Regions from separate parts of the Homo sapiens genome. Here region 2 is linked to region 1. Evidence: fine-mapped expression QTL. A gene starts in region 1. The other region holds a variant in brackets. All regions are shown on one strand. Distances are between the middles of the regions. Region 1 holds the start of SETD9 (SET domain containing 9). Region 2 has its middle 69 kb from the start of LINC02225.

Evidence for each region. PIP is the estimated chance that this variant, and not a neighbour inherited with it, causes the effect. A credible set is the group of variants that fine-mapping cannot tell apart.
Region 2: its variant is the best candidate, but not a certain one, in a credible set for the expression of SETD9 in NK cells (Gilchrist 2021, PIP 0.89).

Annotation. Positions count from the first base shown.
Region 1 is chr5:56,907,907-56,910,825 of GRCh38, reverse strand. SETD9 (SET domain containing 9) reads right to left here and starts at 1,230. Exons shown (of 6, transcript NM_153706.4): 1 at 1,083-1,230. The coding sequence starts at 1,180. RefSeq lists enhancers at 1-569, 665-714, 1,505-1,594 and silencers at 755-964, 1,145-1,354.
Region 2 is chr5:57,829,047-57,831,965 of GRCh38, reverse strand. No RefSeq gene overlaps it. Among named protein-coding and RNA genes, the nearest start is that of LINC02225, 69 kb to the left of the region's middle. The variant A/G (reference allele first, on the strand shown) is at 1,632.

The DNA.
Region 1 (2,919 bases):
TTCAGCTCTTTCCCGTACTACACCCAACAGCCAAGCTGAATGTCATCACAATGAGAATGAATGACCTCACATTCAATGGCTTTTTAAAAATGGCCTTGTAGTTTCAAAGACAAATTCAACATCGTATACTTTGTGACACTCCCTCCAGGACGACTAACGTCTTCAATGACTGCACCTCTTATTTCCATAATCATTATCTTTTTGTACTAACTGCATTATTTTTACTTGAACAAAAAGGTTGTAATTCCCGCCTCACGGTTCCGAGTCATGATACAACTGATCTCCTGTTTCCCTAGCATGCAACCTTCCGGAAACCGCTTTGTTTCCCTATTTGTCGGACACTGACTTCAGGGAGGCCCGGTCGGCCTCTTTGGTGAGCACGGTGTTGAGCTGATCACTGGTGCGCCCTTAATAACGCCGGCGGGACTCACCCCAATCCGAAACCCACCATCCCGACGTGCTTTTGAGTGGCGTTCTGCCCGTTCTTAACGCGCGAGCTACTGCACGCTATTCTCACAGCCGGGATGGGCTTCTTTAACCACGTGAAGTACTTGTATGAACTATGAAAATAAACCCTGGCTTGGCTTTTCTGAGGAAGTTCAAGCACCTAATTAACCCCTGGTGGAGAAAAAGCCACGCACTCTCACGCGGTAAGGGCAGTCTTTTTAAAAAGTTTCCATTTTTGCCCAGATACAAGCTCCCCAGTCAGTGCCGAACGCAACAGGGAAGAACAGGCGACACATCCGGCTGGCGAGCTCGGCCTCGCGGGCCCGGCAGCGCAGCGGACACTGGGAAAGAGGCCATAGGCCCCGCCCACCTGAAGCCACCGCCCACTTCAGGCTTCCAGCGGGCCTCGGACTCCACCAACCTCGGCCCCGCCCGCCTCTGGCCCGCGTTCCTTAAACCCCTCCGAGGCCTCAGTCCCCGCCCACCCGGCCCGCCCACCTCAGTCCCTGCCCACCCGGGCCCGCCCATCTCAGGCCGGCAGTCAGCCTCAGGCTCTCCGCTTTGCGTCCCGCCGCCGTGGTGGCGTCTGGGAACCGAAGGCAGGTGCCCCTCGTTCTGCCGTCCCGCCCTCTCACCTCGGGTTGTGGCTTAGGTTCAGTGCGATCCAGGGAACGAAGCGGTACTTGTAACGGCGCCATCGCTGCCACAGGCCCCGCAGCAGACGGCCAGGCATGGCTGCCCCGCGGGGCCGTGACCAGGACGGCGCGGGGAAGGCGGATCGAGGCCTCGGGCCCGCCCCGGCCCGGGAGGAGAGGGGGCCGCGCTCGGCCGCCTTCCCCTGGCTCCGCTCTCAGTGTTCCTGGCACCGCCTGACTTCTGTTGCTCTGGGGCTTCGTCCTTCCCCTTTCCTGACCTCACCTCTCTGAATGAGAGGCGCGTAGAGCTGGAAGGAGGTCCCCTTGACCACTTTTTCTTTCTCCGGTCGCTCGGGTGCTTCCGTGGGCGCACACAAGCGCTAGCCCTGGTTGCGGGCGAAGGGTCACCGGGCCTCAGGGGCGAACCCGCCCCCGAGACCGCGTCCCAGGAGCGGACCGCCTAGTTTCTCTGTCACGGCTGTCTGGCCTGCCCCTTTGTCCCGGCCGCGCTCTGTGTTCCATCCTCCGTCCACTTGAGCTCTGCCTCTTCCTCGACGTTCTCTCCCCTTCTCTCCGTGGCCCCAGAGCAGCCCGACTTCGGGAACCCGAGTTTCAGTCCTCCCCAGACAGCAGCCCTTCTTCTGCGTGAACCCGTGTTCCCAAAGTTACCAGTTTGGGCGTTTTGCGAATATTTACACGTAAAAAAACAAAGTGTCATGATTCCCTGTTTTCACTCGTTTTTCTCTTCATTGACCCAACCATTCAAAGGCAAAACTACATGGACAAATGTTTCTGAAAAACAGCTTTGTTGAGGAATGGTTGGGATACAATAAACTGCACATATTTAAAGTGAACAATTTGATAGGTTTTCGACACCACAGCCAAGATAGTAATCCAGCCCCTCCCCCAGTCCCCAAGCAACCACTGAGGTGCTTTTGTCCTTTTAATATGGTCTTCGCTTCAATTTGGAAACGTTTTGTCTAGAAGTTCTGCATCTGTGTTCGTGAGAGATATTGTTTCGTAGTTTTCTTGTAGTGTCTTAATCTGGCTTTGGTATTTAGGCTAATGTTGACTTCATAGGATGAGGTGGGAAGTAGTCCCCCATAGGTGAAATTTAAAAGGAACTTTACGACCGCTCCTCCCCAACACCCAGATGCATGCACACGCACACACATATTTAGAACAGGTTTGGACAAAGTTCAGTTTTAAGGGGGGCAAACTACAGGAATCCCTTAACCATATTCAAATCACCAAGTGTTTATTGACAGATAAATACGTTGGTATCATTTCCTCTATTCTTTGCCTGAGAGTGAGGTTGGATCCTAAACTATTGAAATTGAACGGCTCAGATCTAATAAAAACTCAGCCAAGGCCGGGCGCAGTGGCTCACGCCTGTAATCCCAGCACTTTGGGAGGCCGAGGCGGGTGGATCCCCTGAGGTCAGGAGTTCGGGACCAATCTGGCCAACATGGCGAAACCCCGTCTTTACTAAAAAAGAACAAATACAAAAATTAGCCGAGCGTTGGTGGCACGTGCCTGTAGTCCCAGCTACTCAGGAGGCTGAGGCAGAAGAATCGCTTGAACCTGAGAGACGGAGGTTGCAGGGAGCCGAGATCCGCCACTGCACTCCAGCCTGGGTGACAGAGTGAGATCCCGTCTCAAAAAAAAAAAAAATTCAGCCAATCGCCAGTAGCTGCGGGACTAATTTGTTCTATTCTGAAAGAAATAAAGAGAAAGAGTATCTACCAATGTCTCTATTTCGTTCATATCATATAGAATGTTAGCAAACTCTAGAGGCTTTCTCTCAGACTCTGTGTTTGTTTGATAATTTGGCATA
Region 2 (2,919 bases), 920 kb before region 1:
AATACCTACATAAATAGGATGATAAGATGAATATAGAAAATGTGTAAACATGTAAATCTAATTTAAAAAAAAATTGAGGCATCTAAAAAGAAGTCTGGGAACAAAAACCAGGCCTTCCAAGCACCATGTCTTTTCATCTGCCACACTTCCACCACAGCTCCACTTAGGACGGCTTTGCCTTTCTTCCTTTCAGGTCCAACTTGTCTTCTCTGAAGCCTTTTCAACTATCTCAGCCTTCAGTGATTTGTCCCTCCTCCAAATTGATGCAACTTTTATTATCTCTTCTCTGCTCCCCTAAATTAAGAATTTAAGCTTATTACAGACACAAGGAGAACTAAATAATAGACCTTTTTTTCTTCCTGCTTCCATTTTCCAGTACACTTGGCAAGATATTTCCATTCCCACCTTCTCTATACCAGAAAAATCCTACTCATTCCTCATGGCCAGATCAGCCCCATTGCTTTTTCTCTTTTACACCTGTCTGGACTCTCCTCACTTCTACCCTACACTAATTATTTCCTCCTCCATGGCCCTCATGTAAATTTTTCTCATTAAACAAAAGTAGCAATTATATTATTGTGAAATTGTTGAGATTAAAACTCAAGTGGGCCACTCACACTGCTTGACATCCTTTTGGGTTGCTCAATCCAATTCACAATAACTAGTTACACCTCCTCTCCCTTCAAACCTCTGAAACAGTTTTGTTCCTTCTGGTATTTAGCATATGAACTTGCCTGTTAGTTTAAAGGGTTCTCAGCCTTTAGAATATAAATCTGTCTCCAGGATTTCATTAAAATATTTTTAACTCAAACTTACACTTGTATGAATTCCATAACAAAACTTCTATAAGTATACCTTAAATGTGTTTTATGGATGGCTGTACTGTATTAGTCCGTTTTCCCGCTGCTGATAAAGACATACTTGAAACTGGGAAATTTACAAATAAAAGGTTTTATTGAACTTACAGTTCCACATGGCTGGGGAGGCCTCACAGTCAAGGCAGAAGGCAAGGAGGAACAAGTCACATCTTACATGGATGGCAGCAGGCAAAAAATAAAAAGTGAGAGAGCGAGAGAGCTTGTACAGAGAAACTCCCCCTTACAATACTATCAGATCTCATGAGAACAGCTATCATGAGAACAGCACAGGAAAGATCTGCTGCCATGATTCAATTAACTCCCACCAGGTCCCTCCACAACATGTGGGAATTCAAGATGAGAATTGGTTGGGGATACAGCCAAACCGTGTCATGTAACCTCATCCAGGATTATTCATTAAATCATAGTTAAGAATTTCCCAGAATATGGGAAACAGAGAGTATGTGATTATCTGATGAGAATCCCAAATATTAAATATTTCCCTAATATTAAATACTCAAAACAATCCACAGTGAACCATTGCTGCCCTCCTGCCTTCTTGTTGCAGTGGAAGACATGCCTCTTCTTCTATCTAAAACCATCATTTGTATGTATCCCATCATTTATCACTTTTCTATGAGCTATAAATATTTAACATCCCTTCTTTATTGCCTTTTATATAATCAAATTCTCAGGTAGATTCTGTCATCTGGCTCTTAACCATGCATGTGCCTCTTCCACTCAAAAAACAAAAACAGCCTCATTCAACTCTTC[A/G]TTCTCCTATTCCTATCCTCAGCTCCTTAGACCTTTCACAGCTAAATTTCTGCAAGCTTGCCTATACCTGCTGTCACCATTCTCTCACTTCCCACAAATTTAATCCACTTCAATCTAACAATCTAAAGAGGCATAGACATTTCTCTATACCTATTTGCCATCAACTTTCACCATGTATCCTCTTTCTGGGGTGGCAAGATTTTGCATATAAAAATACAGAATGCCCAGTTAAATTTAAATTTCAGATAAGCAAATATTTTTGTCAGATTTCTAGATGTAATATGGGACTCACATGCTAAGGGTATTTGTTGTTTTCTGAAATTAAAATATAACTAGCCATCTTGTATTTTATCCAGCAACCCTACTGCTACCACACAGTGTCCAGCTATCCTGGATTTCTTCTGGTTCTTTCTATTTGAAATGTTTTTTATTGCCACGGCGCTTTTACTGATGCTGGTTGTATTAGTTTCCTAGGGCTGTTGTAACAAAGAACCACAGACTAGGTGGCTTAACATGATACAAATGTGTCGTCTCACAGAATTAAAGGCTAGAAATCCAAAGTCAAGGTGATGGCAGGGCTATACTCTGGGTCTTTGGGAAAGGATCTTTCCTTGTCTCTTCTGATCTGTGGCAGCCCAGGTGTTCCTTGGCTTGTGGTAGCATAATTCCAGTCTCTGGCTCAGTCTTCATAAGGCAACCTTCCCCATCTGTGTCTTCTCCTCTACATATAAGGACACTAGTCATATTGGAATAAGGGCTCATCCTACTCCAGTATGACTTCATCTTAACTAATTACATCTGCAATGATCTTATTTCCAAGTATGATCACATGGTACTAGGGGTTAGGACTTGAATATATATTTTGGGAGGACACGAGTCAATCCACAGTACTGGTTATTTTGCTGGGAATGTGCTGTTTTCTCCTTTTTTCCTAGATGCTCCTACTCATATCTACCCACTGTTTATGATTTTAACATAATTAGCACCTTTCTCACTTTCTTGACCAAATCCTATCCCACACTTTTGTGCTTATATAGAACCATATACTTCTTATCGCGCGTTTGGATTCCATGTGATGATTCTACATGCACTTGCTTGATAATCTGATGAGTGTCTATGCTCCCCACTGGACTGTATACTCCATGAAGGGAGGAACCAGGCCTGTTTGGTTCATTAATACATCCTTACCTCTGAGCAGAGTGCCTTACCTTTAGTAGGTGCTTCATAAAGACTTGTCTAGAAATCAGTGGATTAATTATTTAACAGTGTGAGTGCTGTGAGGAAAAAA